Homo sapiens: one gene and its partners. The protein of the gene in region 1 purifies or fractionates together with the protein of each later gene. This does not show direct contact. Each region holds a gene or a part of one and is shown in the gene's direction. Other genes may lie near its edges.

Region 1 (3,500 bases):
GCCACTCACCTTGACCTCTCAAAGTACTGGGATTATAGGCATGAGCCACCGCACCCACCCAACACTTTTAAAAACCAAATAAATAGCTGAGTACTAAAATCAGTACTTTGCCTATCTTGTAGCAAGAATAGTTGAACATTAAAGAGAATGAATACTATGTTCATGTCCAAAGTAAGGATTCCTGTCTCAGAAAAGAGAGATACTGTCTGAGGCTTGAGTCGTCTTGCTCAGATGTAATAAGAATTTTTGGCCGGGTGTGATGGCTGTAACCCCAGCACTTTGGGAGGCTAAGGCAAGAGGATTGCTTGAGTCCAGGAGTTCAAGACTAGCCTAGGTAACATAGCGAGACCTCATCTCTACTAAAATTCAAAAAAATTAGCTGGGTGTGGTGTCACATTCCTGTAGTCCCAGCTACTTGGGAGGCTGAGGCGGGAGGATCACGTGAGCCCAGGAGTTTGAGGCTGCAGTGTGCCATGATCGTGTCACTACACTCCAGCCTGGGCAATAGAGCAAGACCCTGTGTCAAAAAAAGAGAATTGGCTGGGCGTGGTGGTTAATATAATCCCAAAGTGCTGATATTATAGGCGTGAGCCACCATAATCAGCCCCCAATTTAAAGGAAAAAAAAAATCTAGAATGGAAATCGCTAAAAAAGGTTTTCACGGTTTTGTAGTATAACATTTTTATAAAGGTCTGTATAGACCACAGAGATATCAAGGACAGGTATTGTAACCTAATGCAGGTGGTGAGTTTTAGAATTTCTGTTTCAAGAATACTTTTAACAGTGTGGAGTCTATGGGGTTGAGGAAGGGGAGGGGTGAAGAAGCATAGGCGGAGAGAGAAAACAACTCACAGGCTCTAAAAAAACCTGTTAACATTATATAAACATTAGAAATTCATTTCATAAGGGAATCAAAATTATGCTTCATATAATTGATAGTAATAATCTGCTTAATCACACCTTACATTTCTGTCTTACTTGTAACTTTTCCAAATGTTTTCATATTATCTCATTTTATCCTCACAAGTGTGAAATAGGCAGAGTAGGTATTGCCATTTTATAGGAAACAAACCTGAGGAATAGAGAACTAAAAAGCTGCAAGGCACTATTGAAAGAGTACAGAAACAGAAGTTAGGAGACTGCAGAGAACAGTGTAAATTCTATGTGGAACTCTATGTTGCTGCTAAAATGGATAAGGGAAATTCTATATAAAGAAGTGGACATGACTGGGCCCCGTGGCTCACGCCTGTAATCCCAGCACTTTGGGAGGTCGAGGCGGGTGGATCACCTGAGGTCAGGAGTTCAAGACCAGCCTGGCCAACGTGGCGAAACCCCGTCTCTACTAAAAATATAAAAATTAGCTGGGCGTGGTAGCATGCGCCTGTAATCCCAGCTACTTGGGAGACTTGGGAGAACTGCTTGAACCCAGGAGGCAGAGGTTGCAGTGAGTCGAGATTGTGCCACTGCACTCCAGCCTAGGCAACAGAGTGAGACTGTCTCAAGAAAAATAAAATAAAATAAAAAACTAAAAAAAAAAGAAGTGGACATGTCAAACAGAAACCTGTTTTTGTTAAGAAAGAAACACATTTGTTTATATAGAAAAAGCAAATTATATTTATGAATTATATAACAGCAATCATCTTGGGGCAGGACTACTAAGGGCTTTTATATTATACATTATATTACCTTTTTAATAACAAGTATGTGTTGCTTCTTTTTAACTTCTCATTTTGAAATAATTTTAGATTTAATTAAACAGAAAAGTCACAAAAATAGTACAAAGTACTTACACCTTAGTGAAAGGCATAAGATACCCTATTTATTTATTTATTTATTTTTAAAGAAAAAAAATAGCCAGGCATGGTGGCTCTTGCCTGTCACCCTTGCTACTTGGGAGGCTGAGGTGGGAGGATCGCTTGAGCTCAGGAGTTGGAGGTTGCAGTGAGTTATGATCACACCACTGCGCTACAGCCTAGGAGACAGAGTAAGACTCTGTCTCTGAAAAAAATAAACAAACAAAAAAGGGCATATTTCACACTGTTAGATTTGTCATTGCAGTGGCTGCACATGTACGCGCGCGTGTGTGTGTGTGTAATTGACACTAGAAAGGTTCCCTTTGCAGTATGCAGGAGGCCTAGAATAGAAAAAAGAAATATAGAACAGCTTGGTCTTCTCAGCCTGCTCCCCTTTTTTGGATTTTATACAAGGAGGTGCCTGCAGAATGCAGCAGTGGTTCCAGTTTATTTTATGTTAAGGCTCACACACAAATTTCTGTTTTTTTTTTTTTTGTCAAAAAATTTTTTTGTCTCTGGATCTCTTTACACTCTTAAAAATGATTGAGGCTGGACACTGTGGCTCACACCTGTAATCCCAGCACTTTGGGAGGCTGAGACAGGTGGATCACTTGAGGTCAGGAGTTTGAGACCAGCCTGACCAACTTGGAGAAACCCCGTCTCTACTAAAAATGAAAAATTAGCTGGGCATGGTGGCGCATGCCTGTAATCCCAGCTACTTGGGAGGCTGAGGCAGGAGAATCACTTGAACCCAGGAGGCAGAGATTGCGGTGAGCCGAGATCGTACCATTGCATTCTAGCCTGGGCAACAAGCGAAACTCTGTCTCAAAAAAAAAAAAAAAGATTGAGAATATCACAGAGATTTGGTTTATATGGATTATATCTATCAATATTTACTGTATTAGAAATTAAAACTGGCTGGATGTGGTGGCTCATGCCTGTAGTCCCAACACTTTGGGAGGTCAAGGTAGGAGGATCACTTGAGCCCAGGATCTTGCTATGTTGACCAATCTGGGCAACATAGCAACATCCCATCTCTACAAAAAAAAAAAAAAAAAAATTAGCCAAGCATGGTGGTATGTGCCCGTAGTCCTAATTACTCTGGAGGCTGAGATAGGAGGATCACTTGAGCCCAGGTTGAGGTTGAGGCTGCAGTGAACTATGATTGTACCACTGCACTTCAGCCTGGGCAACAAAGGAAGACCCCAGTTCTGGGAAAAAAAAAAAAAAAAGAAGAAAGAAAAAAGTTAAAATAGAAAAATTTAAAACATTAGTTCACTTAAAAGTACCAATAAATTGCTGAGCACAGTGGCTCACGCCTGTAATCCCAGCACTTTGTGAGGCCAAGGCAGGCGGATCACCTGAGGTCAGGAGTTCGAGACCAGCCTGGTCAACATGGTGAAACCCCATCTCTACTAAAAATACAAAAATTAGCCAGGCATGGTGGTAGGCACCTGTAATCCCAGCTACTTGAGAGGCTGAGGTGGGAGAATCACTTGAACTGGGAGGTAGAGGTTGCAGTGAGCCAAGATTGCGCCATTGCACTCCAGCCTGGGCGACAGAGTGAGACTCCATCTCAAAAAAAAAAAAAAAAAAGAAAAGTAACAATAAATTAATAAATTCATGAGAAGACTGGTGTGGTTTTACATTTTTGCATAGCTCTTTAGTGTCTGGCTTACTAGAAGATACTTTGAGAACCACCGCTGT
Region 2 (3,500 bases), on another chromosome or scaffold:
AATGATCCTTCTGAGACACCTTTGTTGGCTCTTTTTTCATTCACTCCTTAATTGTAAATGTTCTCAAAGACTCAATTCTTATTCATCTCTGCATGTATTTCTATATTATCAGGAGATTTTATTTACTTCTGTGGCTTCAAATATCACCTGTAGTCTGATGACTCTCCAACCATAATATTATCTGTATTTATTTTTTCCTGACTGCTAGATCCCAGTGTCTAGTTACCTTCTGGACAGCTTCATTTCTAATTTCAGCGTGTTCAAAACTGATCGTACCTTTTACTCACCAAACCTGTTCCTCAAACCTGTTAGAAAACATAGCAGTACCTTTGACTCCTCCTTCTCTTTTACCTCGCATCGTCAAATAATCATCAATATTACCAAGTGCTGTGAATTCACCTACTGAATCAGATACCTTATTAGGCTCTTTCTTTCTCTTCCTATACCCTCATGGTCTCATATTCTTTTTTAAAAAACAATTTCAATCATCTTCTAAATGTTCTCCCCATGTTCATACATTCTTACGAAGTCATCAACTTATTCAATATTTATTGAGTATATATTTTATGTCACTAGATTATAAAATTCAAGAGTGCAGAATTCTACCTGTCTACTTCATTGCTGTTTTTCAGAGCCCAGCAAAGTATCTGGCACAAAGAAGACACTAGACACTAGATGAATACTGTATTTGTTAATGAATGGGGAAAATATGCTATTGCCTTACCTTTGAAAATCCTACCACACTGTTGTCAGAATTATTTCCAAAAAAAATAGACTGAACAATTTTTGCTTCCTTTCTCAAAAGGAAGTAAACCTTTCTCAAAAGGTGTAACCTTCTGTTACACCCCATGGATCTTTCCAACTAAAGAACAAAGCCCAAACCCTTTTAGTCTGTTTTCAGCCTACCTATCCAGACTTATCTACTAATATGTTTCGCCACATCTAAAACGGAGCATGCTGTTTCCTCTGCTAGCAAGAGGGAGAAGCTTATGGTTTTCTCATGTCTTTTCTGAGCAGGTACATGGCCCTGTGCTTGTGTGTGGCCTCCTAGTTTCCCAGAACTGTGTCAGAACTCTTCAAAATCCCTATGGAAATCTTATTCCTCAACCATTTTTAAGGCTATTTTGGTTAGTTTTTTTTGTTTTCTCGCCTATTATCCATTGCCTCAGGCAGCTGTGTGACAAATGCTACCCCATCCCTGGGGAGAGGCTCTTAGCACTGGGTGACCAATAAAACAAGTCTTTTGAGTCAGGTCTTTCAGGGAACCACCAGACAGGCCAAATAATGGCAATTATTCAAAAATGAAGTTTGTTGGGCTCACTCCAGCACCTGGAATGGGGTTGTATGTTCAAGATTACCTCTGAGGTAGAAGGGGTAAGGGGACTAGGAGAAGTTAAAACAGCACAAAGCTTGCTGTTCTTACCAAAACTGGGATATTTTTCTTCCATAAATCCTGTCTAAGGTGCTGCAAACCTTTGGCTATTTTGCAAAATTCTAAAAAAAAAAAAAAAAAAAAAAAAAAGTTGATTACGTCAAATTTTGCATTATTTCACTGATGTTGTTAAAGGGTAAATTTCTGGAGGTTATTATGTCACCATTTTCACTGATGTCACCCATTGCCACTTTCTTTATGATACTTCCCAAGTTTCTCTCAAGAGAATTAATTACTAGGTCTCAGTTAGAAGTTAGTAAAAATAAAATATATTTTCCCATCCAAGTTGACTGACTCTCTGAACTCTAGCTACAGGTTCCTTCGAGATCTATTAATCCTGGGTTAAAAACTCTGTCCTTGATTGATGTATGAAAGATGAACAAGCAACACAGGACTTACCAGCATCATGACAGAAGTGTTGAGGCAGGTCCAAGTATGGACCTGAATGGCCTTTACTTACTTCCTATTTCCCTAGGGCATTAAACTATTCACCAAAGGGTACCAGGTCCCTTCAATCGGTTCCCTTTTCCTTGCAGACTCCTCAAAGCTACTCAAGACCAAGACTGAGGCACCTACAACCATGACATACCCCTTGAAAGGTGAGTTTTGCTAGAGTCTGAGGAAGTAGTAGAGGTTCAAAATGGTGTCATCGTAGCCAAGAAAGGAATCACAATGCCATGGAATGGCTAATAAACAGTCACTTGGTTCCTCAGAGAGAACATAGCAGTAAAGGAATGGAAACAAAAGAAAGGTAACAATGATGAATATATACTCTTTTTTTGTGAAAACTTCTGAGGCAAAAGGAAAGAGAGGGTTAGAATTACTCCCATTGGAAATACAAAAAACAAGAACACTAAATTCTATTCTGCTCCTAGTTTGACTTGCTGTGTGACTTTGGGTACATTACCTCCCCTCGATGGGAATTCTTCTCACTGCCCACACCTAACAGTAAGAAATGAAGATGCCTTATCTCATGGTACTAGTGGTTGATAACATGGTCAGGTACCCTGGAAAGTACAGCACAAATGGCCAGGGAAGGACTCCAACCTTTGCAACCATCTCCTATCTCTCAACTTTTTGAAAGAAGAGAGACATCTCTGACCCTATTCTCTATATTCATAGCAACATCTACAGTGAAGCAGTCCTGGGACTGGACCACTGACATGGATGGCTACCTTGGAGAGACCAGTGCTGGGCCAGGTAGGAATATTGTCAGGATTTCTATCTTTTCTTCTTGACTCTAAGCTTTGTGACCAAAACTTTCCCTTATGCACACTGTTCTACAGCATTGAAATCTGCAAATCATTACCTGCTATGTGCCAAGCAATGGTCAAGGGCACTGAGGATGGGTAAAGTGGGTAGGATGTAGAGAGAGAGATACAGATCCAGAGATGAGCAAAGTCAGAGTGAGGTTAAGGGGAGTGATAAATGTGCCCTTTATTTAGTTCTCTGTTGTCATAGTAATATGCTTTCCAAACATTCTGAGCAAGAATATGGATAGGGACATTATGACATCATGACCTCAACCAGGTAAGGATAATGGCTGAGTGTCATTGCTTGAGCTCTTAACCAGGGCTCTTCAAGCCGCTTGAAGCTGATTTCTGATTCCTCCAAAGCCTTGAAAATTCCCAAGTCAGGGTCTCAGAGATTCAAATCCCAAATAAATCTTTTGTGTTTCACCTGCATCTGATAGTCAGTTGGTATGCCTTCACATGACTACATTGACTGTTGAAATAATAGAACACTCTCACACCAATTGATAATTAGCTGCTCCCCTTAACCCCTGAGCCCTCCATTATTACCTGGGGCTGCCTTGTCCCATTCCTCAGAACTCTCTAGACCACCCCCATGGTCATGCAACAAAAGGTATACCAAGGAATCTCTAAGACTCCAAGTCTACAGTAGGCATCTGTTGTGACTGGTTGGAATTAAATAGTTTGATAACTATCACTCCTGGTACTCATTCTCTGCCTGTGTATAATTGAGAGAGTGGACTTCCAAATGCTCTTTGTAACTCTCCATTCCTGATTGCAGAGTTTTTTGGCTATCCCTTGGCAGCACTCAAACC
Region 3 (3,500 bases), on another chromosome or scaffold:
GAAACAGCCCTGGGGGGGCTGGAGCCCTGAGGGCTGTCGTACAGAGCAGCCCTCCCACTCTCAGGTGCTCTGCCGCTGCAACCACCTCACCTACTTTGCTGTTCTCATGGTATGTATGCATCCTGAGTGGGGCTCAGAGCTACAGAGGGCCCTGTGTCTGTGGCAGAGGAGCAAGGCAAAAGCTGGTGCAAGGGACAGAAAGTCCAACTGAAATGGGCTTAAGCAAAAAACAAAAAAAACTTTATGGACTCATGTTTCTGGAAAGGCTGGGTTAGGCTTCAGGCATGGCTTGATCCACGGGCTGATCACTAAGATCACTAAGATAGCACTCTATCTTTGTCCCTCAACTGTGCTTGCTCTGTGCTGGCTTAGCCCTCAAATAGGATCTCCTTATGAGATAATAATATAGCTGGCAGCAGTTCCAGGCTCATGCCCTGCTAGCTTTCAGGCCAGTGGAATAAAATCTTCTTTTACCCAGTTCTGCCAGCCATGTGCTCATCCCTGACCCAATCGCTATAGGCAGAAGGAGGGAGGGCCCTGCTTGACCAGGCCTGGCACCCCTTTCTGCACAAAGAGGGCAAAGTGGTGGAACCCCACAGGTGCATAGGGAGTGGGAGAAGGGAGGCACTCATAGAAGAAGAGGGAGATGGGAGATGTGGAGGGGGCAAAACTGACTGTATCTGCCATGGCCTTGTTCAAGCCAGGTCCATGGCTAGGCTTGTGGGGAAGGGGACTTGGAGAGGAGGCCTCAGGAGGTCCCTCTGACTGAGGCTGGGAGGAAGGGCGATACTATGCTTCTGGCCTCCAGCCCCTCTTCCCTCCTGCAGCAACTCTCCCCAGCCCTGGTCCCTGCAGAGTTGCTGGCACCTCTTACGTACATCTCCCTCGTGGGCTGCAGCATCTCCATCGTGGCCTCGCTGATCACAGTCCTGCTGCACTTCCATTTCAGGTATTCCGCTGCCACAGTGCTGGGCCTGCCCTGCACTGTGGCACATCACGCTTCCTTGTGTCCCATTTAGTCCACTAGAACTGGGTGTGCTTCTCCAGAGGGTGGGGACCAGGAGGCGGGAGACCAGCCTTGTGGTGCGACTGCTGTGGGATCCCTGCCCCTTCTTCGCCTCAGTTTCCCTGTCGGCATGCACCTATGCACCCAGTGGGTAGTGCTGCCTGGGTGATGTCCCTGGGCCATGGAGGACCATTCTCTCACCTGCAGGAAGCAGAGTGACTCCTTAACACGCATCCACATGAACCTGCATGCCTCCGTGCTGCTCCTGAACATCGCCTTCCTGCTGAGCCCCGCATTCGCAATGTCTCCTGTGCCCGGGTCAGCATGCACGGCTCTGGCCGCTGCCCTGCACTACGCGCTGCTCAGCTGCCTCACCTGGATGGCCATCGAGGGCTTCAACCTCTACCTCCTCCTCGGGCGTGTCTACAACATCTACATCCGCAGATATGTGTTCAAGCTTGGTGTGCTAGGCTGGGGTAAGCACATCATCTCTCCTCGCCTCCTCAGACTTCCAGGTGGGCAGGGTATTGATCCCCTTTAGTCCTTTCTTTCCCCTCCTCCTCATCGTCATAGTGGCCATTACATGACCACCAGCTGTGAACTCTGTCTACACCCACCTCTACTTTCTATGTTACTAATTTTATCACCTCTTCCACCTCCATCATCATCATCGTCACCTCCTCCACCACCATTATCACCTCCTCCACCTTCATTATCACCATCACCTCCTCCACCTCCTCCACCACCATTATCACCTCCTCCACCTTCATTATCACCATCACCTCCTCCACCTCCATCACCACCATCATCATCTCATCCACCTCTGTTATCGCCATCACCTCCTCCACCTTCATCACCACCATCGTCACCTCCTCCACGTACATCACCACCTTCTTCACCACCATGATCACCTCCTCCACCTCCATCACCACCTCCTCCACCATCATCACCATCATCATCACCTCCTCCACCTCCACCACCTCTTCCACCTCCTTCACCACCACCATCATCTCCTTCACCTCCACCACCACCTCCTCCACCTCCATCACCTCCATCATCACCTCCTCAACCTCCATCATCACCTCTTCCACCTCCATCACCTCCATCACCACCACCTCCACCTCTGTCACCTCCATCACTACCTCCTCCACCTCCATCACCTCCATCACCACCTCCTCCACCTCCATCACCTCCATCACCACCTCCTCCACCATCATCACCTCCATCACCACCTCCTCCACCTCTATCACCTCCGTGATCACCTCCTCCACCTCCGTCATCACCATCATCACCTGCTCCATCTCCTCCACCTCTATCACCACCATCATCACCTCCTCCACCTTCATCATCACCATCACCTCCTCCACCTCCATCACCACCATCACCATCTCCTCCACCTCCGTTATCGCCATCACCTCCTCCACCTTCATCACCACCATCATCACCTCCTCCACGTACATCACCACCTTCTTCACCACCATGATCACCTCCTCCACCTCCATCACCACCTCCTCCACCTTCATCACCATCGTCATCACCTCCTCCACCTCCACCACCTCCTCCACTTCCTTCACCACCACCATCATCTCCTTCACCTCCACCACCACCTCCTCCACCTCCATCACCTCCATCATCACCTCCTCCACCTCCATCATCATCACCTCCACCTCCATCATCTCCATCACCACCACCTCCACCTCCATCACCTCCATCACCACCTCCTCCACCTCCATCAACTCCATCACCACCTCCTCCACCTCTATCACCTCCATGATCACCTCCTCCACTTCCGTCATCACTATCATCACCTGCTCCATCTCCTCCACCTCTATCACCACCATCATCACCTCCTCCACCTCCATCATCACCATCACTTCCTCCATCTCCTCCACCTCTATCATCACCATTATCACCTCCTCTACCTCCATCATCACCATCGCCTCCTCCATCTCCTCCACCTCTATCATCGCCATCATCACCTCCTCCACCTTCATCATCACCATCATCACCTCCTCCATCTCCTCCACCTCTGTCACCACCATCATCACCTCCTCCACCTCTATCACCATCGTCATCACATCCTCCATCTCCTCCACCTCTGTCATCACCATCGTCACCTCCTCCACCTCCATCATCACCATCACCTCCTCCATCTCCTCCACCTCTATCATCATCATTACCTCCTCCACGTCTATCATCACCGTCACCTCCTCCATCTTCTCCACCTCTGTCATCACCATCATCTCCTCCACCTGCACTATCACCATCATCACCTCCATCTCCTCCACCTCCATCAGCACCATCATCACCTCCTCTACCTCCATTACCGCCTTCATTTTCTCTACCTCCTTCACCACCATCACCACCTACTCCACCTCCATCTCCACCATCATCACTTCCTCCACCTTCTCTATCTCCAGCAGCACCATCACTGGTACCTTCATCACCGTCCTTGCCCCTTTCTTGCTTATTTCTATTTCCTCAGCAGTTCCCC
Region 4 (3,500 bases), on another chromosome or scaffold:
CATGCTCCCCAGTGGCCTGGAAGGCCCTGCCGGAGGGGTTTTCACTCAGTTCTGAATATGCTAACTTTCTAACGGGCGGTGGCGTTCTGCTTTTTAAACAGCAGAACAAAGTTTCCTGTGAAAGCACAACCTGTAATGCAGGTGAGAGCAGAGCAGCTGCAGGGGCAGCGCCTGTGGCCCTGAGGGGAGCCAGGGAATAGGGTTTACCGGGTCCGGCTGTGGTCTGTGCGCCTTCAAGAGAGATGGGATTCAGAGCAGCCATCTTCGTCCATAGCTCATCACTAGCGGGTTCCAACAGTCAAAGACACTGCCCTCAAATGCCCTGTGAATGCCTTTTCTCCTGCAGCATCCTTCAGAATCGCGGTTCAGCACTCACTGAGGGAGCACCCACTGTGGGAGGCCTGGGAGTGTGGATTTGAAGGGCACAGACCCAGGAGCCAGACTCACCTGGGCCGGTGGCTTGTTCACCGTGTGACCTCGGGCATAGTACCTAAGCTCTCTGAGACTTCTTTTTCCCTTCTGTAAAATGATGATGGAACCAAGTCATTGAATTTTTGTGAGGATGGAATGAGTTCATGCCTAGAAAGTGCTGAGGAGAGGGCCTACTGCATAATGGAGGCTCTGTAGGTGGCATCTCGTTTGATTCTCAACAAAAACTTGGCATGGCTGCCATTAACCTCAAATGAGGAGACTGAGGCTCAGAGAGGTGAAGCGACTTGTAAGATCACACAGCAGAAAGGTAGAGGAGACAAGAGGGAGCAGTCAGATGTGGGTGACTGTGCGCCTGGTGCTCTTGGAAGGCTTTCTGTGTCCCTCTTTAAGACTCTCTGTCTGTATCACCGTCACTGTCACTTCTTTTTCGTGTTCATTTGTTTTTTGAGTTCCCAGTTCCCAGCACAGAGCCAGACATGAGGAGGTATTCAGTAAAGGTGTGAATGAATGAATGAAATTCATGGGTGGATTTGTACATCCCTAGCACTTGGCTGATGTCCTTAGTGAGGGAGTGAGTGAGCCTCCAGCAGCACTGGGATTTAACCCTGCTAAGGGCCTGTGCGGTCCCCTTAGCCCCACCCCTGGCTGCTCTTAGAGGGAAGGGCTGGCCCAGGAGGCCGGAGTGTGGCTTCAGTGAAAGTACAGGGCCTGCCAGGCTGCTCCTGGGGAAGTCCGCAGAGCAGTGCCGGGGCAGCCAGGCCTCCTGTGGGACTTCCTGCCAAGGCCCGGGCCCAGCCCTTGAACAATGGCAAGGGCTCGAGAATCAGAGAATCAAAAGGAAAAGGGCAAAATAAAGGTGGGGGAGTGGGCAGAAAACGAGGAATTGCATGTGGGGACTGAAGAGCTGGTACGGAGGACTTGTGTGGCCTGGGTGGAAATGTAGTCAGAGGCCCACCCTCCAAACCCCCTCTACATCTCCATGCCCCCAGTCCCTGGCCCTGAGCATGGCCTAGGGTAACCCTTAGGGTCTGTCAGCCTTCTGTGCATCCCCTCCAGGCTGTCTTCCGCCAGGTGGGGTCTCTTGAAAACCCCCGTCTGACCAAGTCACCTGCCGCTTAAAACTCTTGCTTCCCCTGGGTAATGGGCGGCTCCTTGGCCTGGGTGAGAGGCCTACTATGATGGGCTGCAGGCCCATTTCCCACCTGGCTCTCTGCCCTGCTCAAAGCATCTTTATTCCAGCTCCAGCCGTGCTCTGGGGTTCCCTGAGGGCAGGCACAGAATGGGTGGGAGTGGGGGCTGGCAGTGGGAAGGAGCCAGTGGGCTTACAGTGTTCCCCTTTCCTCTCCGCCTTACACAGAGCCATGAGACCCCAGATCCTGCTGCTCCTGGCCCTGCTGACCCTAGGCCTGGCTGCACAACACCAAGACAAAGTGCCCTGTAAGATGGTAAGATGCTCTGCCCAGACAGGGTGAGGACCACCCCCACCTCCCTGCCCTAGGGTGTGCTAGTGCCCCAGCCCCAGAAGCCAGAAGTTAGAAGAGTCAGGAGAGGAAAGGGAATGTACCTTGCATTTAATGAGCACCTACTAGAATGTTTAAACACCTTATTTACCCACAGTCCTGCCAGGTAAGCACCATTATTCTCATTTTGCAAAGGAGGAGACTGAGGCTTGGAGAGATTGGGCCTTGTCCAAGGTCATTCAGCTGGGAACAGTGAGGCTGATATTACACTGTATTCCCCCAAGCTGTCCCCACAGAGCAGTAGGCCCAGCTAGGGGATCTAGAATATATATATATGTGTGGGGAATTTGGGGTAGGCCAGCTGGGAGGGGCTCCTCTGTGCTCATCCCTCTTGGAGACAAATCCCCTTCCAAGCTGGGCTCCTTGACTTGGGACTGCCCGCTGGAGTGCCTCTCACTTCTTAGTGCCCAGATCAAATGCTGCCATCTCCAGGAAGCCTCCCCAGCCCCTCCCAGGCTGGCCTAGTCTGATCACACCTTCCTCTGGGTTCCTGCGGTCCCCAGGCTTCCCCCTATCTCAATACTGAGAAGACTGAACATGTGGGGTGGTTGGTGAAAGGGTCCAAGCCTGTCTCACCTGCCAGACCATGAACTTCCCTAGGGCAAGGACCAAGTTTGATTTGCTTCTATTCCTTTTTCCTGTCCCAAGCCAGGGAAACTAGCCCTAAAGTTCTTGTGACTCTATGAGATACAGGGCAAAGAGAACACCTAGATCCACTTGTAAGGCCGGGCAGTCACTGAGGCCAGAGCCTGGCTGGGGAAAGGGCAGGGCCTCCGGAAGCCCCTCTTGGACCTGAGACTCGAAGAAGCTTATGACACAGAACCGGCAGCTGCTTCAGGAGGCAGGAAGTGCAGGCAGCTGCCTGCCCGCAGCCCTTCCCTGGGGGTGCAATGTCTCCTGTTGCCACCACCTTTCTTGCTCTTCAGAGCCCTTCTAAGATTCCCGGAGCCCAGAATTGCGGGCAGAGAAGGCCTCAGATGTCACCAAATACAAACGCACATTCTACCTCAGGGAGACGAGGCTCAGAGGGGAAAGTCCTTGACTACCCAACAGGCAGAGGGGAAGCGGGTGAATTTTGGAGTCTGGGGAAATGAGATAAGAGATAGGAAAGCACTTTCTGAACCAGCATGGGAATAATACACACGGGAAGTAAGGAGAAGATGTGTGACCCACCAGGGACCTACAGGATTCGAACCCAGCTGCCTTTGCCACTGTTCACTGCCTGGTGCCTCTCCCTACTCTGCTTTCCTCCCATGATCAGGTGGTGAAATGGAGTTGGATGGCAAGTCTTTGCTTCTGAAAAGGAAGCTGGGCAGTGGGTGTCCTGATAGCCCAGGACAGTGGGTGGGAGCTCTAAACTCTGGTCAAGGGCCAATTCCTCCAATTCCCTCCGACGGTAAGTCAGGCAATGCTGGGAGCTCAGAGCTGAAGGAGGCATGAAGACCCTGGAAGTGGAGCTCTGAGCACCGCCCTGGACTTCAAGCTTCTTCCTGGACTGGACTGGAGATCTGGGCATCCCAGTGCAGCCCTGCCCACCATCAGGCCCCC
Region 5 (3,500 bases), on another chromosome or scaffold:
TATGTGGGCAGACCTGGCTCTGGTTTTGTCTGGAACCTAGGGTGGGACTGGATTCTGGGGCCATAGTTGCTGGCCTGATGCTGGGTGGGCCCGGAGTCTGTATCTGCAGGGGCCAGCATGGAGGCTGGGTCTGTGGGTGCAGGCATTATGACTAGGGATGCAGAGCTGGACTGAGGCCTGGTGTTGGGGTAGGCTGAGAGCCTGAGTCTGGGTGACCTTCCCTCTTAAAGCAGATAGTCATGAAAATTCAAAGATAAGCTTTGTTCTAAGTGTGGGAAGACAGGGACATGCCAGCAAATGGACTTCTTTTAAGCATTCAGTGGCTGGGAGCTGACTAGCAAGCAGCTTCTCCAGATCCTATCCTTGACCATGGTGGCTGAGGGTCTTGGGTTAGCTAAGCTCCACTTTACCTAGCATTCCATCCGCAGTAAGTTAAGCCTTGGAATAAAGACTGCATTGGCAAAATTCTTAACATACTACTGTGAGTGCTGGTGAGGGTGTCATAAGATGGACAGTCTTTATATCACTGGTAGGATTGAAAATTTATACCACTCTTCTGGAAAGTAATTTGGCACAGTATAAAAAAGGCTTTTATAATGTCCATTCCCTTTGGTCTAGTTTTCATATTTATAGAAGTCTATCTTAAAGAACTAGGGAAGTGGACATAGATTTATATTAAGAAATCTTAACTTGTATACTACTTATAATAGGGGAAAATTGGAAAGAATCTAAATGCCCTAGAAAAGAGGACTAGTAAATCATGTCAGTTATGTAGCTATATGATGAGATATTTTGCAACCAACTTTCAAATGCCTAATGACATGGAGAGATGCTCATGATATAATGTTGAATTGAAAAACATCAGGATATAACCTTTTATACACAAATATGATCCTTCTTTTTAAAAAAGGGGAATAAGAAAATACATGTTGGCCGGGCGCGGTGGCTCATGCCTGTAATCCCAACAATTTGGAAGACCGAGGTGGGTGGATCACCTGAGGTCAGGAGTTTGAGACCAGCCTGGCCAACATAGTGAAACCCCGTCTCTGCTAAAAATACAAAAAATTAGCTAGGTGTGGTGGCATGCACCTGTAATCCCAGCTACTCAGGAGGCTGAGGCAGGAGAATCACTTGAATCGGGGAGGCAGAGGTTGCAGTGAACCGAGATTGCACCACTGCACTCCAGCCTGGGCAGGCGACAGAGCGAGACTCCGTCTCAAAAAAAAAAAAAGAAAAGAAAAGAAAAGAAAAGAAAATATATGTGTATATACGGTTAAAAAAAGACCAGAAAAAAGCAAATTATTATGAGTGAAGATATTATGGGTGATTTGTGTTTTCTTTTTTAAACTAGCCTGTATTTTTTTCAAATTTTCTACAAATGAGTCTGTATGATTTTTATAGTCAGAAAAAGCAGTAAATGTAGAAATGTCTCCACACACACCCTACATTGCACCAAAAAAGACTTATTTGTCACAGTTGTAGGCAAAAAATGGTTTACGTTAGGGTTGAATTTGCCAATTATCATAATGGGCAAATGGGTTCTGAATCCTCCAGCTTTCTGCACTGTATCGTGATTACGGCCGCTGGTGCCAGTACTGGTGTGTGAGCTCCAGCACGGCCCATCTGCTGCTCAGGCTTGCTTGGCGGACACAGATTTATTTCATTTAGTTTGGTAATTTGGCAACAGTTTCTCTTTTCTCATTATCCTAGCTGGGATTCAGTACCAGTGTTACTCATTTTGTTTGCCAGTTTGTTGTTTTCTTTTGTTCCATTTTGTGAAGATGAAGAAGCCAACAACAGGAATTCTGTCTTCCGAAAATGCAGTGCTTGTCCTTTCGGGATCTTGGGCATGCCTTGCTAAAGTGCTCTCTATTTTTGACACTTGCAAGCCATTTCAATTGTTTGGATAAATAGAAAGCTTCATGGTGTATTTTTCAAAGAGCTTAGCATTCCTTTCCTCTCCCCACTCCACCAAGGAAGATTTGGAAATTGTTCCAAATAGAAATTATAAACATTAGCCTGGAGCTGTGCTGTCTCTGTCTGGTTTTGATGCTTTTTTTGTTTTAACTAAAGGCTCATGTTGTTTGTTTAATCTTCATCAGTACTGCAAAAACACATGGTATAAGACTTAACTCTGCCCCAAGCACCCTACACATAAGAAGGGATTTTCATCTGAATTAGTTTGTATTTCAAAGAGCACTGGGATAGCCAGATTGCTAAGAATTTGCTCAAGTAAAACTTTAGAACTATTGGAATCTTAGAGATGTCTTGAATGGATTTGTTAGGATAGGATGGCTGCTGCCTGAGAATCCTCTTTGAACCTGACACTATTTTTTTTTTTTTTGAGGAGACATTCTTTGTAATACTTTGTGCTACTTTTCTCTCTAGGTTACCCTGAAGAGACTTACCCAATTTATGACCTTTCAGACTGTATCAAGCGTAGGCAAGAAACAATCTTGGTGGATTACCCTGACCCAAAAGAACTTTCTGCTGAAGAAATAGCTGAAAGAATGGGAATGATAGAAGAGGAAGAATCAGATCATTTGGGTTGGGAAAGTCTGCCCACTGACCCCAGAGCCCAGGAAGATAATTCTGTTACCTCGTGTGATCCAAAGCCAGAAACATGTTCCTGCTGTTTTCATGAAGACGAGGATCCTGCTGTCTTGGCAGAGAATGCTGGATTCAGTGCAGATAGCTACCCTGAGCAAGAGGAAACCACCAAAGAAGAGTGGTCCCAAGACTTTAAAGATGAAGGGTTGGGCATCAGCACCGATAAAGCATATACAGGCAGCATGCTGAGGAAGCGTAACCCCCAGGGTTTAGAGTGAAAACAGCCAGTCTGAAGTATCCATTACTCAAGTCCCAAGGTGACCTCTCTCTCCTCAGATTTCCTTCTTGGCCCTGTGCCCTGCACTTTCTTCACTGTGTTCAAGTGTCATAGCTATCAGGCCACTATCATGGATATCATGTATCCTTCCTGGTGCTCACACACCTGTCACCTTGTAAAACACGGACATTAGTGTGAACACAGGACAGCTTCGCTCTTTCTCTTCCTGCCTTTCCTCTATCAGAGAAGTTGATCCATTAAGTAATTATGTTTGGTCTATTGTAATTACAGATGGGACCACTCAGGGGCAAAGGTCTGACTCTTCCTGGTAGGTGTAACAGATAGTTCACCTGTGAACGAACATCAGCTTACAGATGATGAGGACTTAAGGTTGCAAGAATGAAGATTTCAGACTCCAAGATCCCTTATTCTTTGGGCCTTGAGCAGGTTAGTAGTCCCCTGGTGAGAAGAGAACATTTTGTTTGTGGGGCTAATGGGCCCAGAGGAGGGTAAGACTCTGCTGTCTAAGCTGAAGCCTCTTCCTCGCAGCGAGGGTCTTCCTAGGAACATTGATGCTGCCTCAGACATCCTCTTTTCTCCAGAGTAGGGAAGACTCCCACTGATCTGAGAATGAGCCCAGAGGCTTGTTTGGGGACTGTTTTACTCTGATACT
Region 6 (3,500 bases), on another chromosome or scaffold:
GGGGCGGAGATGGCGCCACTACACTCTAGCCTGGGCAACAGAGTGAGACTCCTTCTCAAAAAAAAAAAAAAAAAAAAGCAAGTAAAGAATGAAGCAACAAGAGCAGAGATTTATTGAAAACGAAAGCACACTCCACAGGGTGGGAGTGGGCCAAGCAAGCGGCTTAAGGGCCGGGTTACAGAATTTTCTGGGGTTTAAATATCCTCTAGAGGTTCCCACTGGTTACTTGGTGTACACCCTATGTATATGAAGTGGCTAAAGTGAAGTTACAAAGTCATTTACTGGGTGTACACCCTATGCAAATGAAGAGGATGTTTCCTGCCATGCTGAAATACAAAGCTATTTACTTGGACTTAGAAGGTTGGGGTTTTTCCGTTTAATTTAGTTCTAGGAAGTCCTTAGGTTCCCTGCCCCCAGACCCTGTTCTCCTGCTTCACAGGGGTCATGCTGTGGGCTAGTGGGAGAACAGAAACAAGGACCCAGGTCTCCCACCAGTTAGCCCAGTGCTCTCTCTCCTGCACTGTGGTACCTTACAGCAAAACTCCTGATGGAAAACTGGCCATGGAGTGAGTCTGTTCCAAAGTTCAAGGCAGATAATTGCTTTGTACATGTACATATGAAAGAAGCCGGAAAGATCATGTTTGGAGAAATATAAGGAATTTGGTATGTCTGCGGTATAGGATCCATGACGGGAAGAGGTGGAAGATGAGGCAGGAAAGTCGGAGAAAGTCCAGTATACACACAAAAAGTTAGGATTTTATCCTCTATGTGGTGAGAATTATTGGAGGATTTAAAGCAGGGGAACAAGATCAGATTACATTTCAGAAAGATTCCAGTGCATGGTAGAACGTGAGCTGGGGAGGGAGAGGGAAAGGCAAAGGCAGATGGGAAACAGAGACCAGAGAGGAGACTATGGAGGGCTTGACTACGCAGTAGCATGGGTGAGAGGAGCCAGGGGAGTCAACTGCTGTTGAGCACATAAAACCAACAAGGCTAGGTGCTCACCTGTTTAAAGGGCAACAGAGAGGAAGATGAGTCAGGGACTATCATATTGCCATATTTATAGAGTGCTTACCAAGTGCTAAATGTATTTCATCTCATGCAATCATCCTAACAGCCCTGTACTATTACCAATCCCAGTTGACGGATGAGAATACTTAAAACACAGAGAAGTAACTTGCCCAAGAGTATAATGCTATTAAGGGTTGAAGCAGGAATCAAACTAGAAGGTGAGCTTGTAGCCACTACATTATTCCCATCTTAGTTTTCCACCAGGGGGTTACCGGGTAGATAATGACTCTATTAACCAAAATGGAGATGTGAGAAGTATGTACCCCTCCCCACTACACCCCAAACTTTGGTAGATAAGAGGGGTGGGAATATGACTTTTTCCATTTGGGACATTCTGAATTTGAAACAACAAGTGGAAATGTGAGTCTGGAGCTTGAAGCAGAGATGGCCTCATTTTATAGGTGAGGTAACCGAGGTAGAAGTTAACCAACATGCAACCTCCTTCCCAAAGCTTTGCTTGAGCAGTAAGAACTTGGGGTTTTGAAAGTAGAGAGAAAATTTTAAACTGAACAAATCTTTCTAGGGATGTTGAGGTCTATATATATTTTGGTTAATGTAGGAGTCTCCTGAAGAAGGTAGAATATTCACTTTGGAGATACCAGTATAATTTGATTTTCACTGAAAACCTTCCTCTGTTGATACTTTGCTGATGTAGAACAAAACATAACTCTAATCTTTGTCAGTATAATTGTTCCCAGTGCAACAGTGGAGGTAGATTTTAATGATCTGTGAGGAATCTGCTATCTTGTTCTCCTTGGGCTGGCCTCTGAATTCCACCAGGAGTCATCCCTAACATGATGGCTACCTCAAAGGCCTTCCATGTTCATTTAGTACCATAAGCAATGGTGGTGAACTTCAAGCTTATGGTTCCCTTAACCGTGCTGTGTTGTGTATTTTCAACCCTTTTCTTTTTTTATGAACAAGTGAACCAAACCTTTTTCTATGAAAGCCCCAACCATTTTAAAGAGCAAACAAAACTTGTTCTGTTGGTTTAGTGCCTCCTCCTCTCCCATTACCAAGCAGTAACATAATCTCAAATCTTCAGTATCAGCCCACTGAGCTTTGAGAGCTAAGGGTACTTTACAAGTTAAGTGTCCAGAAGCACCTACCACCACGTTCGTAGACCACCGACTGACTGATCCCAGCAACTGGCATCACTGACCTGCACAGCCAGGCTTGGGGCACCCCAGATCACACATGCTTCCACTTTCTAAAACCAGGTGTGTTGCTGTCATGGGAAATCTAATTCCAGTCCGAGGGCACCATTACTGGGAGGTGGAGGTGGATGAGCATTTGGACTACAGAGTTGGTGTGGCCTTTGCAGATGTCCGTAAACAGGAGGATCTGGGAGCAAATTGCCTCTCCTGGTGCATGAGGCACACATTTGCATCATCAAGGTAAAGTAAAATCTGGATACTCACAATTAAAATTTGCTTTTGAAAGATTACAGCAAGACCTTTTCACTAGCAATAATTAAGACACACGTTATATTTTACAAATATTTTAAGATATTTCAGGAGTTGCTGCCAGCCACTTTCCCTAAAGTCCAAGTAAGAGGAGAAAGAGCAGCTTTTCTTCAACTAAAAATAGCTAAAATTTATGGAGAATTATGTGCCAAGTACTCTTACATGCATTATCTCATTTACTTCTCACAATTGTGTTATCTCATTTGAAAAATCAGAATGCTGGGTGCAGTGGTGTGCACCTGTAGTCCCAGCTACTCAGGAGAGTGAGGTAGGAGTATTGTTTGAGCCCTGGACTTCAAAGCCAGCTTGGGCAACATAGCAAGACCCCGTCTCTAAAAAAAAAAAAATAATAAAATAAAAAAATAAAATAAAATAAAAGAATAAAAATAAGAAGACCACACCTCACAGCAATTAGATAATCCAAACGACATGGATTTGGAACTTGGATTCAAACTCAAGCAGTCTGGTTCCAAAGATTTCATTCCTAACCACTTAAGTGATAGATTTTTCATTTCTGTTCACCTTTAGTATTAAGCCAATACAGTTTGCTTTGAAGCCCCAGTTCCATCTTTTTAAGTAAATGTGGGCAAGAGGCTTAGTAGTTATGGCTAATTCTGGTTTGCTCCTGCTGCTGGGCACTCTGTCTTTACACATGGAGTAGTTCCATATAGTGGGAAAAAAAGTCTCACGAAGCCCAGGCCAATGAATACACTTTCAGACTTAGAAGGCCATGGTTACAACCTTCCTTCACCTCAAAAACTGAAAAACAAGACCCCACACTGCTTTCCTATCACACCTTGTAAAATGGGGCCTCTGACCCTCCTTGATTTGATGAATCCTATTAATGTTCATCCAATGCTCTCTGCCCATGATCCTCTATCATGGTTATTTACACATTATGTGTCATGCCCAAGCATAAGTGGGAAAACCAACTTCCCCTCCGATAACAGATGAAGACTCTAA
Region 7 (3,500 bases), on another chromosome or scaffold:
AGTACAGGCATTCTCCCATCTGGACATGGGTGGAGGTGGCATCCCTGAGGAGGGGGATGAGGCTGGGCTGGCAGCCTTAGTCACAGGGCGGGATGGGGCGGGATGGATTAGCTGGGAGAATCTATTGACAGATGCAGATGAACCTAAGGGGGAGGCAAAGAGCAGGGCTGCTGCATAGGAGAGAAAAGAGCTGATACTGCAGGGGGTATGGACAGAAGTGTGACCAGTGACTGGGAGCAAGAATGCTTGGAAAAGAGCAAGAGCTGGTGAGGTCTGGGGTGCAGTGGAGAGGCAGGAGCCAGGGCTGGCAGCAGATGATATTCTTTTTTTTTTTCTGAGACAGGATCTCACTCTCTTCCCCAGGCTGGAGTGCAGTGGTGTGATCATGGCTCACTGCAGCCTCAACCTCCACCTCAACCTCCCATTAGCTGGGACTACAGACATGACCCTGGCTAATTATTTTTGTTTTTGTAGAGATGGGGGTCTCACTCTGTTGCCCAGGATGACATACTTTTAAAGGTTAAAGTGATAAAAACCCAGAACTTGACTTAGACTTAAAAGTCTCTGGAGAAGGAGAGAATGACCCTGATGAAAGGATGAGCCGTCTTACTTTCTTTCAGTGTCAGTTTCTCAAAAGACTTGAACCTCAGGCAGAGCTTCCCCTTGCCTGGCAGGCAGGCTGCTGGGCCCTATGTGAGACCCCTGAGAGGAGGCAGTGTGCCATCATAAGAGAACTCTGGAGTCAGAACCCTAGTTGTTAGCCTTTGCTCTGCTTAAATATCCTACGGCTCAGTTTTCTTATCTATAAAATGGGGATAAATCCACCAGCTCCACTGACTTCAGAGGGTGAGATGGATGTGGAAGGACCTTTTAACTTGTAAAGTTTAGTACAAATGTGAAGCGGATCTGGCCTTAACTCCGAATTTCCCTTTTCCCAGCAGAGGCAGGCCCACCCAGGAAATGACTGATCTTGTGTCTGGCTTGCTCCTCAGGGTCTCCACAGAGCTGCGCTATCGAAAACAGCCCTGGGGGTTAGTGAAAACGTTCATCGAGAAGAACTTCTGGAGTGGGCTGGAGGACTACTTCCGCCATTTAGGTGAGCACTGCAATCCTTGCTGCTAGCTGGGCTGCAGAGATGGTAAACTGCACTGCGGCCGCCCACCATTCAGGGGAATGGTATTGAGAATAGAGGCAGAGACTGAAAGGTGAAGTAGTTTCATGAGGTACCCACACCTGCTTCAGAAGTGGACACCAAATTTGGCATGTATGTGGACAAGTGCATTTTTCTAGACTGTGTCTAGGATGTTTAAGAGATCATTGAGGGATCTATAAAACACCCCTCACCCCAAAAGGAACCACAGACCTAGTGATATAGGTGGCTCTGTGACGAGAAGTATTTGTAAAATGCCTGTGAATGCATCTATTTAAGACGTGTATGCCCCAAATTGTATACATGAGGGTGCAGATATTGGGAACATATGGTTCCTTGCAATGTTGAACAACCCCAGAGGAAGGGTTTGACTGGGGCTGGGTCCCACAAGTACCTCCTGAGGCTCATGGGCATCCCTGAGGATCCTCAACCCACCCAACCAACTTCCCAGAATACAGAATAGGAAAATGGTTCTGCAGAGAGTTGCATTGGAGGGCTGAAGGTGGCCTCTCCTGTGGTCCTTTTGTCTCTGATAGAGAGCGAGCTGGCCAAAACGGAGAGCACTTATTTGGCTGAGATGCACAGACAATCTCCCAAAGAGAAGGCCAGCAAGACTACAACGGTGCGGAGGAGGAAGCGTCCCCATGCCCACCTGCGAGTCCCTCACCTGGAAGAGGTGATGAGCCCGGTCACCACGCCCACAGATGAGGATGTGGGCCACAGGATCAAACATGTGGCAGGTGTGTGCCAGGTGGGGACAGGTCGGGTGGACTAAGCTTTGGGCTGGAGCTGCATGCCCACACCAAGGCACACACATGCACACTCATTTTGCACCTTGGCTATAATTTGTATATAATTTGAACGTAAGTCACTAAATCTGAGGCTCCCAATGCTCTGTTTCTCTTTGCTCTTTAAGTTCCTCAGCCCCAGCTGAACCCATATGTGTGCTCTAATTAACAAAAGCTGCCTTAGTGTTTATGCTTTCGTGTTGCCCTAGTTCCATGGCTACCTGCATAGGCTCAAGTATGAAGCTTCCAAGTTCTTGGGAAATACACTAAGGAGATCCCACAGCTCAGACCACAGAGATTACCTCATTACACAAAGATCAGGGAGACCAAGACAGTCCCCGTTCACTTCAACCCGCATGGGCCAACCCAGGCTTGCCCTCTCAGGCCGTGGACTCCCTTAATATTTCTTCCTCTTCCCACCCAGCCATTCACATCCTTGTCTTTGCTGAATCCTGGAAACCTGGGACTCTAAGGGGCCTTAGAGACCAACTAATTGAGTTGGATATGGACAGGGGAGGCAGAAGAAGAGGGGAGAGTGGGGGAAGAGTGCCAGCCTTCTGCATGCCGCCTAGCTTTACCCCTAGCACTTCCATGTTACGTGTTTTGCATTTAAGATTTCTGACTGACATTGCATTTGAGTAAACTGACTCTCAGAGAGCTTACATGACTTGTCCTCCATCATGTAGCTTACTAGGAATAGATCCAGACCCAGAAGCCAGCCGTCTTTAGTCCTAGCCCAATGCCACATCCTCTCCCATAGCTGAAGATCCCTTTGTCCTGGGCCTGTGTATCCTAGCTACATGGGCCTGTTGATTTTCTCATTTGTTCAATGATGACCTGACCCAACCCATGACCTTGCCCTTGAGGATTTTACCTTCTCCTCTTGGAGAGCTGGCAGTCTCCGCATATCGTTGCTGTCACAGTGTCATGGACATTTTTCCATCAGTCTCTGATGTTTGCTGTTTGACCAGTGTCCCCACCAGCAGTTGTTGGACTTGTGGGTCACCATGGTGATGGTCTCTTTAATTCTCCCCACAGGTTCCACACAGACGCGGCATATCCCGGAGGACACCCCCAACGGTTTCCACCTGCAGAGCGTGTCCAAGCTGCTGCTGGTTATCAGCTGTGTGTAAGGGATTCTAGGTTTTCCTATCCTGCCCTCACCACCTTCCCTTTCCAGCCTGGTGCCCCAGCCCTCGTCTCTTGAAGCATCTGAGCACCCTTACTGTTTGCCCTGGTTTTTGCCTTATCCTCTAGTCTTCTCTGTCTGGATTGGTTGCTCTGCCTGTTGCTTACCTCTTCGCTTCTTTTTCTCTGCTTTGTTCAGCATTTACTGTATGCTAGGCCTTCAGAAGAAAATGCTTCATGCAGCATCCATACCCTTCAGGGTTTCAGTTTCAAGTGGGTGAGAGAGACAGAACATTTGAAATTCCTGCACAGATGGTTAAATGCTAACAGAGAAATGCTAGAGGGCATTTTAGGAGTTCATTCCTTCATTAGATGTTCTGGGTGTCTGCTCTGTGCCAGGCACTGGAACTGTGCACTCATGGAGCCCACACGTT

Evidence for each region.
Region 2: the proteins of MACO1 (region 1) and VSIG4 purify together in Homo sapiens (co-immunoprecipitation; one large-scale study listed by IntAct). This does not show direct contact.
Region 3: the proteins of MACO1 (region 1) and ADGRG5 purify together in Homo sapiens (co-immunoprecipitation; one large-scale study listed by IntAct). This does not show direct contact.
Region 4: the proteins of MACO1 (region 1) and LRRC32 purify together in Homo sapiens (co-immunoprecipitation; one large-scale study listed by IntAct). This does not show direct contact.
Region 5: the proteins of MACO1 (region 1) and RIC3 purify together in Homo sapiens (co-immunoprecipitation; one large-scale study listed by IntAct). This does not show direct contact.
Region 6: the proteins of MACO1 (region 1) and FSD2 purify together in Homo sapiens (co-immunoprecipitation; one large-scale study listed by IntAct). This does not show direct contact.
Region 7: the proteins of MACO1 (region 1) and GRAMD1B purify together in Homo sapiens (co-immunoprecipitation; one large-scale study listed by IntAct). This does not show direct contact.

The regions. Positions count from the first base shown.
Region 1 is NC_000001.11:25,437,397-25,440,896, forward strand, and holds part of MACO1 (macoilin), read left to right. Parts: intron 1-3,500. UniProt on the Homo sapiens protein: Plays a role in the regulation of neuronal activity.
Region 2 is NC_000023.11:66,026,581-66,030,080, reverse strand, and holds part of VSIG4 (V-set and immunoglobulin domain-containing protein 4 isoform 1 precursor), read left to right. Parts: intron 1-1,968; coding exon 1,969-2,031; intron 2,032-2,554; coding exon 2,555-2,632; intron 2,633-3,500. UniProt on the Homo sapiens protein: Phagocytic receptor, strong negative regulator of T-cell proliferation and IL2 production. Potent inhibitor of the alternative complement pathway convertases.
Region 3 is NC_000016.10:57,566,643-57,570,142, forward strand, and holds part of ADGRG5 (adhesion G-protein coupled receptor G5 isoform 1 precursor), read left to right. Parts: coding exon 1-109; exon of another isoform or gene 110-827; coding exon 828-949; exon of another isoform or gene 950-1,207; intron 1,208-1,213; coding exon 1,214-1,482; intron 1,483-3,500. UniProt on the Homo sapiens protein: Orphan adhesion G-protein coupled receptor (aGPCR). Ligand binding causes a conformation change that triggers signaling via guanine nucleotide-binding proteins (G proteins) and modulates the activity of downstream effectors, such as adenylate cyclase.
Region 4 is NC_000011.10:76,664,248-76,667,747, reverse strand, and holds part of LRRC32 (transforming growth factor beta activator LRRC32 isoform a precursor), read left to right. Parts: intron 1-1,789; 5' UTR 1,790-1,793; coding exon 1,794-1,877; exon of another isoform or gene 1,878-1,882; coding exon of another isoform or gene 1,883-1,900; intron 1,901-3,500.
Region 5 is NC_000011.10:8,110,026-8,113,525, reverse strand, and holds part of RIC3 (protein RIC-3 isoform a precursor), read left to right. Parts: intron 1-2,388; coding exon 2,389-2,828; 3' UTR 2,829-3,500. UniProt on the Homo sapiens protein: Molecular chaperone which facilitates proper subunit assembly and surface trafficking of alpha-7 (CHRNA7) and alpha-8 (CHRNA8) nicotinic acetylcholine receptors.
Region 6 is NC_000015.10:82,761,070-82,764,569, reverse strand, and holds part of FSD2 (fibronectin type III and SPRY domain-containing protein 2), read left to right. Parts: intron 1-2,291; coding exon 2,292-2,468; intron 2,469-3,500.
Region 7 is NC_000011.10:123,611,769-123,615,268, forward strand, and holds part of GRAMD1B (protein Aster-B), read left to right. Parts: intron 1-992; coding exon 993-1,096; intron 1,097-1,686; coding exon 1,687-1,890; intron 1,891-2,976; coding exon 2,977-3,067; intron 3,068-3,500. UniProt on the Homo sapiens protein: Cholesterol transporter that mediates non-vesicular transport of cholesterol from the plasma membrane (PM) to the endoplasmic reticulum (ER).